Regions from separate parts of the Homo sapiens genome. Here region 1 is linked to region 2. Evidence: fine-mapped expression QTL. A gene starts in region 2. The other region holds a variant in brackets. All regions are shown on one strand. Distances are between the middles of the regions.

Region 1 (5,000 bases), 36 kb before region 2:
TTTTTTTTATTTTTTAGTAGAAACGGTGTTTCACCATCTTGGCCAGGCTGGTCTCGAACTCCTGACCTTGTAATCCACCCGCCTCGGCCCCCCAAAGTGCTGGGATTACAGGCGTGAGCCACCACGCCCGGCCTACTTAGCCAATTCTTTATTGATTTTCTTTTCTTTTTTTCTTTTTTTGAGACAGAGCCTTGCTCTGTTGCCCAGGCTGGAGTGCAGTGGCGCGATCTCAGCTCACTGCAAGTTCTGCCTCCCAGGTTCACGCCATTCTCCTGCCTCAGCCTCCCAAGTAGCTGGGACTACAGGCACCTGCCACCACGCCCGGCTAATTTTTTTTTTTGTTTTTTTTTTGTTTTTGTAGAGATGGGGTTTCACCGTGTTAGCCAGGATGGTCTCGATCTCCTGACCTCGTGATCTGCCTGCCTAGGCCTCCCAAAGTGCTGGGATTACAGATGTGAGCCACCGCACCTGGCCTTTTTTGTTTTTTTAAATTGAGATGGAGTCTTGCTCTGTCGCCAGGCTGGAGTGCAGTGGCGTGAGCTTGGCTCACTGCAACCTCCAACTCCCTGGTTCAAGCGATTCTCCTGTCTCAGCCTCCCAAGTAGGTGGGATTACAGGCGTGCCCCACCACACCCAGCTAATTTTTGTATTTTTTTAAGTAGAGATGGGATTTCACCATGTTGGCCAGGATGGTCTCCATCTCTTGACCTTGTGATCTGTCTGCCTCAGCCTACCAAAGTGCTGGGATTACAGGCGTGAGCCATCGTGCCTGGCTTTATTGATTTTCAATAAAGACATCAAGATAATTCAGTAGGGAAAGCATAGTCCTTTCAACAAGTGGAACTACTGGATATTGACACTGTGTCGCCCAGGCTGAAGTGCAAGTGACATGATCATGGCTCACAACAGCCTTGACCCCTCAGCCTCCCAAGTAGCTGAGACCACAGGCGTGCACCACTGTACCTGGCTAATTAAAAAAAAAAAAAAATTATAGAGACGGCATCTCGCTGTATTGCCCAGGCTGGTCTCTAACACCTGGGCTCAAGCAATCCTCTTGCCTCAGCCTCCCAAAGTGCTGGGATTACAGATGTGAGCCACCATGCCCAACCTAGATTTTTTTTTTTTTGAGACGGAGTCTTGCTCTGTTGCCCAGACTGGAGTGCAGTGGTACGATCTCGGCTCACTGCAGCCTCTGCCTCTTGGGCTCCAGTGATCCTCCCGTCTTGGCCTCCCAAGTATCTGGGACCACAGCTGCGTGCCACCATGCCTGGCTAATTTTTTTTATATTTTTAGTAGAGACAGGGTTTCAACATGTTGCCCAGGTTGGTCTCAAACTCTTGGACTCAAGTGATCCATCTGCCTTGGCCTCCCAAAGTGCTGGGATTACCAGCATGAGCCACCACGCCCAGCTAGATATTCTTATGGTAGGGGAAAACATCTTGATCTTTACTTCACAACATACAAAAAAAAATTTACACTGTGTCATAGATTACAAGCTAAGACTGAAATGTCTCAAGTAAACAGCAGAATATCTTTACAACTTTGAGTAGGCAAAGATTTCTTTTTTTTTTTTCTATTTATAGCATTTGTAGCCCATATTGAAAAAAAAAAGATGGCCAGGCACAGTGGCTCATGAGTGTAATCCCAGCACTTTGGGAGGCTGAGGCAGGTGGATCACGTGAGCCCAGGAGTTCGAGACCAGTGTGGACAACATAGCAAAACCCTGTCTGTACAAAAAATTAAAATATTAGCCACGTGTGATGGCAAGTACCTATAGTCCCAGCTACTCAGGAGGCTGAGATGGGAGGATTGCTTGAGCAGCCTGGAAGGTCAAGGCTGCAGCCTGGGATACAGAAAAAAAAAAAAAAGAAAGGAAGAAAAAGATTTCTTAGACAAGACATAGAAAGCAAAAGTCATAAAAGAAAAAAATGATCAGGTGTGGTGGCTCATGCCTGTAATCCCAGTACTTTGGGAGGCTGAGGTGGGTGGATCCCTTGAGGTCAGGAGTTGGAGACCAGCCTGGACAATATGGTAAAACCCCTTCTCTACTAAAAATACAAAAATTAGCCAGGCCTGGTGGCAGGCACCTGTAATCCCAGCTACTCGGGAGGCTGAGGCACAAGAATTGCTTGAACCCAGGAGGCGGAGGTTGCAGTGAGCCGAGATTGCTCCATTGCACTCCAGCCTGGGCAACAAAGCGAGACTCCATCTCAAAAAAAAAAAAAAAAAAAGAAAAAAGAAAAAGAAAAAAATGAATAAACTGATCATCAACAAAATTAAAAGCTTCTGCTTATCAAAATATGCCATTAAGAAAATTGAAGGCAAGGAGATGAAAATTAAAAGGAATTCCTTCATATTCTACAGTGTAGACTGAAACATTTTTTTCTGGTTTGTTGCTGCAATTTGCATTTCTGTGATGAGACTGAGGCTGAACACTTTTCTATAGATTTCTTGGCCATGCAAACCTTTTGAGCGTGGTGGTGATTCTACGTATGGATGGAAATTATTGCATTTCTTCTGCCTTCCAGGTTGTGCCTCTATGACATGATTCAGTCCAGAGTAACACTGATGGCTCAGCACGGATCCGATCAGCACCAGGTTCTTGTCTGTACCAAGTTGGTGGAGCCCTTCCACGCCCAGGTGGGCTCCCTGTACATCGTCCTCGGGGAGCTCCAGCATCAGCAGGGTGAGCTGCAGCCTCAGATCCCCTTTCTCATCCTGGGGCCTGAGCTGGGGCAGTCTTCGGGGCAGTCAGTGAGAAAT[GGGCTC/G]GTGACCCAACAGCAATGTCTCATCAGGGTTAATGTTTCTTCCAAATTAGCCCACAAGTTCAACACTCTTGAGGATTCAACTCAGAGTGGACTGGCCTCATGGTGCCAACTCAAAGACAGGGTGGCTGGTCAGGAGTTCGAGACCAGCCTAGCCAACATGGCGAAACCCCATCCCTACTAAAAGTACAAAACTTAGCTGGGCGTGGTGGCATGTGCCTGTAGTCCCAGCTACTCAGGAGACTGAGGCAGGAGAATCACTTGCACCAGGGAGGTACAGGTTGCAGTGAGCCAAGATCGTTCCACTGCACTCCAGCCTAGATGACAGAGTGAGACTCCGTCTCAAAAAAAAAAAAAAAAAAAAAAGACAGGTACAGTGAAGAGACAATCCCCCATGGGGAAGTGAGAACGAGGAGAGAGAAACCACTAATTTCTCAAGGCCTACAACACACCAGGCCTGATGTGAGGCAGCTTGCTTAGATCTTTTTGAATTTGCCTGTCAGCCTTTAATCTGAGTCTTAAAAATTTTTTTTTTTTAGTTTTTTTGAGACAAGATCTCTCTCTGTTACCCAGGCTGGAGTGCAGTGGTATGATCACAGCTCACTGCAACCTCCATCTCCTGGGCTCATGAGGCTCCCACCTCAGCCTCCTGAGTAGCTGGGACCACAGGCGTGCACCACCACACCTGGCTAATTTTAAAATTTTCTGTGGAGACAAGGTGTCATTATTTTGGGATGAGGGATCTGCGTGCCTTGGCCTCCCAAAATGCTGGGATTACAGGTGTGCAGCACCAAACTCAGCCTTACTTCTGATTCCTTTTTATTTTTTGAGACGGAGTCTTGCTCTGTCGCCCAGGCTGGAGTGCAGTGGCGCGATCTCGGCTCACTGCAAGCTCCGCCTCCCGGGTTCACGCCATTCTCCTGCCTCAGCCTCCCAAGTAGCTGGGACTATGGGCGCCCGCCACCACGCCTGGCTAATTTTTTGTATTTTTAGTAGAGACGGGGTTTCACCGTATTAGCCAGGATGGTCTTGATCTCCTGACCTTGTGATCCACCCGCCTCGGCCTCCCAAAGTGCTGGGATTACAGGCGTGAGCCACCGTTTTTTTTTTTTTTTTTAGACAGTGCCTTGCTCTGTCACCAGGCTGGAGTGCAGTGGCGCGATCTCAGCCCACTGCAACCTCCAGCTCCCTGGATCAAGCGATTCTCCTGTCTCAGCCTCCCGAGTAGCCCTGCCTGCTTCTGATTCTTACTGCTGGTTTTTTTTTTTTTTTGTCTCGAGACAGAGTCTTGGTCTGCTGTCCAGGCTGAGTGCAGTGGCGCGATCTTGGCACCAGGCTCTATCCTGCCATTTCTGTATGGATTGCCTGTAGTGGAAACCAAATGGTTGATGAAGGAAAGTTATTTCTTTTTTTTTTTTTTTTGAGACGGAGTGTCGCTCTCGCCAGGCTGGAGTGTAGTGGCATGATCTCAGCTCACTGCAACCTCCGCCTCCCGGGTTCAAGCGATTCTCCTGCCTCAGCCTTCCGAGTAGCTGGGACTACAGGCATGCGCCACCACGCCTGGCTAATTTTTGTATTTTTAGTAGAGATGGGGGTTTCACCATGTTGGCCAGGATGGTCTCGATCTCTTGACCTTGTGATCTGCCCGCCTCGGCCTCCCAAAGTGTTGGGATTACAAGCGTGAGCTACCGCGCCTGGCCTGGAAAGTTCTTTAGAGAAGAGTCACAGCGAATGAACGCAGGAGAAATCCGTAAATTCAAAGTCATCACTTTAAAAGCCCTGACAAAATAAAAAATCCAGGCAACAGTCCTCGCTAGTGGCCAAAATCATTAGGAAACATCTTGATGAGATCATTGTGATGGAGGGACCCGCCAGCAGTGCCTAGGCTGGCCTGATCAATGTCGACGTGATAAAAATCAGAAGGGCAAACATCAGGTACCTCCGATGTGAGTCATGAGGAAGACACACATAGCAACACCTCTGTTGGGTTCTTGCCAAAAAAATTGAACCTGGGCTGGGCGCCGTGGCTCACGCCTGTAATCCCAGCACTTTGGGAGGCCGAGGCGGGCGGATCTCGAGGTCAGGAGATTGAGACCATCCTGGCTAACATGGCGAAACCCCGTCTCTACTAAAAATACAAAAAGTTAGCCGGGCGTGGTGGCACACGCCTGTAGTCCCAGCTACTCAGGAGGCTGAGGCAGGAGAATCGCTTGAACCCGGGAGGCGGAGGAGGTT
Region 2 (5,511 bases):
CTGCCCCGCCACATGAGGGGTCAAAAGGTGAGGGTCTCAGGTTTGTGTGGTGCTGGGGAGGGGGCAGGCGGCCTCGGTGTCCCAGCCTTAGCCAGCTGTGCTGGCAGTGAGTTCCCGACCCCACCTAGCTACCTGCCACTTCCCTCCCCGAGCCAGTGAATCACCGGCTCAGCCACTAGCACCTGAGCCAGCCTGGCTGGGCCCTGGGAGGGGTAGTTGGGCTGGCTGGGGCAGGGAGGCAGCAGCATGTCCCCCATCCCCACCTCCTCGCACTCCAGCCCTGTGTTCCCCTATACCTCCTCCACCCCAGGGAGCCTTGCCAGCATGCTGGCTTCAGTAGCCATCTAGAGGAGCCTCACACTGTCGGAGCCGGGGAGGTGGGGCAGGCGCAAGAGACTACTGGGCACCCTAACATTCTCCAGAGTTGAGGGTTCAAAGCCCAGATTGGGCTCTGACTTGCTCTGAGTCACATGGTCAGGGGTGGAGGGGAAACCTTGCTTCCACCCCAGGGCTTTTTCTGTGCATTCGCCCTGCAGCCTCCATAGAGCACCTGCTGTGTGCATGCACTCACTGTGCGGAGGTCACAAGGTCAAGCAGACCTAAAAGAGGGCAGATTGGTCCAAGCCTTATGAGCACAGTGCCTTATGGGGGATCATTATGCTGGGGCAGGAGAAGCCTTGAACTGGGTCAAAGGATGGGCCCCCCCAGGCAAAGGGACAGTGCTGGTGAAGGCACAGCAGTCTGGAAGAACTCTGTGGCCAAGACACCCTGGTTTCATCTTTCTCCATCAGAAAGATGATGGACTTGACCTTGGTCAAGTTACTCAACCTCTCTGTGCCTGAGGTTCCTCACTTGTAAAGCGGGATTTTAATAAAAATATCTATGCCTTAGGGCTATTGTGAGCATTAATTGAATTTATCCATCTGAAACGTCCAGTGCAGGCCTGGTGCAGGGTCGGCACCCAGCACGTGTTAGTTTTTATCCCATTAGAGGGCTAGTGCCTTGAAGGCAGGGGCTTGTTGGTTCTGTCTACAGTGACATCTCCAGTGCCTAGAACAGTCCTGGCATACAGTAAGTGCTCAGTAAGTTCATGTCAAACGAGTGGATCGCACGTGAGGGGAGAGCCAACAGGGCCCTGAGGACGGAGCTGCCCCAGGCCAGGAGCGCACTGCTGGGGAGCCTGCCTGGACAGTGGGAGCTGCAGGTGCTGGGCCCTGGGCGCCCCTCCTCAGGTCCCGCCTCCTGGGATGGCTGCTCCCACCGGGAGCTGCACACTCCACCCTGGGTGGGGCTCAGGTGCCCCAGGGAGGACAGGTCACTCAGCGAGAGTGTTAGCTGAGAGTCTTAACCACTGTCTTTCCCGTCCGCCCAGACACCCAGCCTCGGTGTCTGTTGGTGCCTTGATCCCTATCGGGGTAATGGGCACCCCCACTCCCACACCAGCCTTTCATCCCTGAGGTCATCTCGACACCCTGGACCCAGGCGGGCTGCTGCCTCCTCTGCAGACGAGCTGAAGCCAGTGAGTGGGAAGAACACCGCCCAATCCATCCACAGATTGCTGAGGCTGGGCTCCAGAGAGCCGGGTGGTCCAAGGGAGGCCCAGTGCCCCCTGCACCACACCCACTGGAAAAGGAAGCCCCAGCTCTATTTTGTTTTAACAGACAGGGTCTTGCTCTGTCACCCAGGCTAGAGGGCAGTGGAGTGATCACGGCTCACTGCAGCCTCGACTTCCCGGGCTCAAGTGATCCTCTCACCTCAGCCTCCCAAGTAGCTCTGACTACAGGCATGCGCCACTACATCCAGATAATTTTTGTATATTTTTTGTAGAGACGGGATTTCATCATGTTGCCCAGGCTGGTCTCGAACTCCCGGGCTCAAGTGATCTACCCGCCTCGGCCTCCCAAAGTTGTAGGATTGCAGGCGTGAGGTATTGCGCCAGGATTTTTTTTTTTTTTTTTTTTAAGACAGAGTCTCAGTCTGTCACCCAGGCGGGAGCGCAGGGGTGTGATCATGGCTCACTGCAGCCTCAAACTCCTGGGCTCAAGCAATAGGCACGAGCCACCATGCCTGGCTATTTTTTATTTTTATTTTTTTACAGAAACAAGATCTCCCTATGTTGTCCAGGCTGGTCTCGAGCTCCTGGGCTCAAGGAATCCTCCCGCATTGGCCTCCTGAAGTTCGGGGATTATAGGCGTGAGCCACGGCGCCCGGCCATGAACCCCTAACTCTTCAATACAACAAGGCCCTGGGTGAGAACTCTGGGGAGGGCTGTGGCTTAGGCAGGAGGCAGCACAGCCCCTGCATCCCTACCCCAGGGATCCCACCCCGTCCCCTCAGTCCTCATGCCCTGTACCCAGGCTCCAGGGGTCATCCCAGCCAAGTAGAGCCTTGGGGCAGAGCTGCAGTCAGGCAGCCAGGCTCTCCTGTCTCCCAGGCTCTCCTGTCTCCCAGGCTCTCCTGTCTCCCAGCCTCTGGCAGAGGAGGGCCTCCGTGCAGGCTCCTGTCCAGCACTTCTCCCGCGAAGCGGCCTCAATCCGTGGCCCTCAGGCCCCCTTAGAGGATGTAGGGAGCCCCAGGTCATCCCCTGCCTCCTGCCAGGGCTGAAGTTCGGCCTGGGCCTGCGGCTCCCAAGGCAGGGAGAGAGTCCATCCCTGGGCCCTTTGGCCTCAGGACACCAAATGCCAGCACGGGGCTGGTCCTGGGCTCTGGGCCGCCGCCGCCGCCAGGTGGCTCAAGGACCTGGGCCTGGCACCACCCCCACCCCAGTTCCCCGGCTCCCCATCCCCCAGTCCCACTTACCGGCTGTGCCTGCTGGGGGAGCCTTTGGGGGACCCCTTGGCGGGGGAGCCCTTGGGGGACCCCTTCCCCTGGGAGCCTTTGCTCAGCCCCTTGAACATGGTCGTAAAGGCAAGTGCTGGCTCAGGCTGGGCTTGGCTGGCGAAAGACGGCAGGAGGGCAGGTGGGAGGCAGCGGGCGTCCTCACTGGCTGGTCAGCTAAGTCTGGCGAGGTGGGGCGGCTGGGCACTGGGGAAGGGAGTTTCTGGGAGGCCCCTCCTTGCAGGTGAGGCAGCGGGCGGGCGGCCGGGTCCCAGGCCTGACGCGCATGCACCCACAACGGCCACACTCATGCCTCCTCCTGCACAACCAGTCTGGGAGGAAAGGGCACAGCCCTGAGGGCGGGGCCGAGCCTGCCCGACTCCCACAGAAGGTTTGGACTTGTTACACCCACATGCCTAGGGGAGCGCAGCGGCGATCACACCCAGATAGGGAAGGAGTTGGGCCAGGACAGACAGGGCTGGAGACAGACGTGCACATGCAGGTGCAGGCTCAGCGGAGAGGCCCCAGCCCCGGAGCTCAGGATTAATAAACACCTCCAGCCAGCTCAGAGGACCTGCTGCCAGGCAGGCCCCCACCCACAGCTCTCAATCCCCCAGGAGAGGAGGGGGTGTCCTGCCAGCCCAGGGCCTGACTCTCTGTTCTCCACTGACATGATGGGGCAGTCAGGGGACGTTCACTCCAGACAACTGGCACAAGGTCCATTTTTTTTTTTTTTAAGAGACAAAGTCTCGCTCTGTCACCCAGGCTGGAGTGCAATGGCATGATCTCGGCTCACTGCAACCTCTACCTCCCGGGTTCAAGCGATTCTCCTGCCTCAGCCTCCTGAGTAGCTGGGATTACAGGTGCCCGTCACCACGCCCAGAAAATTTTTGTATTTTTAGCAGAGAAGGGGCTTCACCATGTTGGCCAGGCTGGTCTCGAACTCCTGACCTCAAGTGATCCACCCGCCTCGGCCTCCCAAAATGCTGGGATCACAGGCATGAGCCACCACGCCTGGCCCCATTTTATAAAGTGTGCACAGTGCAGCAGCACCAGGGCTGGCTTCAGGCGCCAGTAAGCCTGGGCTCTGGCTGAGGCCCGGGAGCCTGATGCACTTGGCTTTTCCTACCTGCCTCTTCCCCCACCCAGAAATGGCCCCTGGTGGCTTTTATGAAGTCAGATTGAGTGGCAGACAGTGATGCCAGCTTATTGGTCTTTTCCTCACACTGGGTACCAGGGCTGCTGCCTTTTCCTTCTGTGGTGGCCCTGAGCGTCTTCAAGAAAGAGGCGATGGCACCCCCCTTTCCAGGCGCTCATTTCACTGGCCCAGCGTAACAGGCCCCTTCTGCGGGGTGGCGTCGCTTTCCAGGTCATTCCTGAAACCCCCGTGGTTTTAGTGGAAGGAGGGCTTGAGGGGGAGCCAGGGGATGGAACAGACTGACTGGGTGACATCACCTGGACATCCTGGCAGGCCTCGCTGAGGACAAAGCACAGCCTGGCAGGAGAGAAAGATCCCAGCAGACGGGGGAGACCAGGGACCGACGCCTGATACTGGCCTCAGGCCCCCATGGGATAGAAAAGTCCTGCGCCCTTTTTGGCTGAATTTCATGGGAAGTCCCTGAACTCGGCCGTGGAGAGGGGATGCAGGACACCCCCATTCCTAGAGGTGGAGGAGCTGACAGGGGCAGTAGGGGTGGGGAGGGCAGTGGCAGCCCCTGACAGCAATGAGGAAACAAAGAGGTCTCCAGTGTCCTTGGCTCCCAGCCCGTGTCTTGAGTGAGATGGCACCAGGGATGACTGGCCACTCAGCCTCTGCCCCAGCCTGCTCCCACTTTATTCCTGGTGACACTTGTCTTCTAGCCACTCATTGCACACCTGCAATCAGCTGTCTTCAGAAAGGAGCCGTTTGTGTGAATGACTACGGGGGCCAACGCCAGCCTCACCCCTGGCCTCCCTGACTCGCCTTTTTCTTTTCTTTCTTTTTTTTTTGAGACTGAGTCTCGCTCTGTCTCCCAGGCTGGAGTGCAGTGGCGCCATCTCGGCTCACTGCAACCCCTGCCTCCCAGGTTCAAGTGATTCTCCTGTCTCAGCCTCCCGAGTAGCTGGGATTACAGGCGCCCGCCACCACGCGCGACTAATTTTTTGTATTTTTAGTAGAGACAGGGTTTCACCACGTTGGCCAGGCTGGTCTCGAACTCCTGACCTCAGGTGATTCGCCCACCTCAGCCTCCCAAAGTGCTGGGATTACAGGCATCAGCCACTGAGCCCGCCTGCTTCACCTTTGAGCTTGGCCCCTCCCTGGGAGGTGGCAGTCATTGGAAGTGGGGCCCTGGGGAGAGGTGTCCAGACTCCAGACAGAGAGCAGCCGGGTGAGGCCCCTGAGCTGTGCAGGGGGAGGTGCCCTGGGCGGAGGGCAGCGAGTCTGAGGTCTGGAACACTCGAGCTTCCTCCCCTCTTCAGAAGCCCTCCAGGAAGGAAATGAGCACTGCAGGGGGCCCTCACACGCCCCGGAGATTAAGGGCTAACTGATTTACTGCAAGAAAAACAAGAGCTGACTTCCTGGCGTGATCTTCTCATGCTGGATCAAATCAGGCCCCGCTCCTCTGATAAGGGCTGCCAGGCGGCAGGCAGGAACACCCTGAGTCCTGAGGCGTCCTCTCACGTGGGATGCTCCTGTCAGATGGCAGCAACCCT

Direction of the effects. Positions count from the first base shown, and alleles are read on the strand shown. Sizes are in standard deviations (SD) of each study's normalised expression.
In carriers of allele G in region 1, the expression in sun-exposed skin of the gene that starts at base 3,005 in region 2 tends to be lower than with GGGCTC alone (small effect, 0.19 SD a copy in GTEx).

What was found. PIP is the estimated chance that this variant, and not a neighbour inherited with it, causes the effect.
Region 1: its variant is fine-mapped to the expression of EVPL in sun-exposed skin (GTEx, PIP above 0.99).

Annotation. Positions count from the first base shown.
Region 1 is chr17:75,988,938-75,993,937 of GRCh38, forward strand. It overlaps TEN1 (TEN1 subunit of CST complex), which reads left to right. Exons shown (of 4, transcript NM_001113324.3): 3 at 2,529-2,686. It overlaps TEN1-CDK3 (TEN1-CDK3 readthrough (NMD candidate)), which reads left to right. Exons shown (of 10, transcript NR_037709.1): 3 at 2,529-2,686. Among named protein-coding and RNA genes, the nearest start is that of CDK3, 9.4 kb to the right of the region's middle. The variant GGGCTC/G (reference allele first, on the strand shown) is at 2,764.
Region 2 is chr17:76,024,302-76,029,812 of GRCh38, forward strand. It overlaps EVPL (envoplakin), which reads right to left and starts at 3,005. Exons shown (of 22, transcript NM_001988.4): 1 at 2,800-3,005. The coding sequence starts at 2,897. RefSeq lists an enhancer at 2,587-3,474.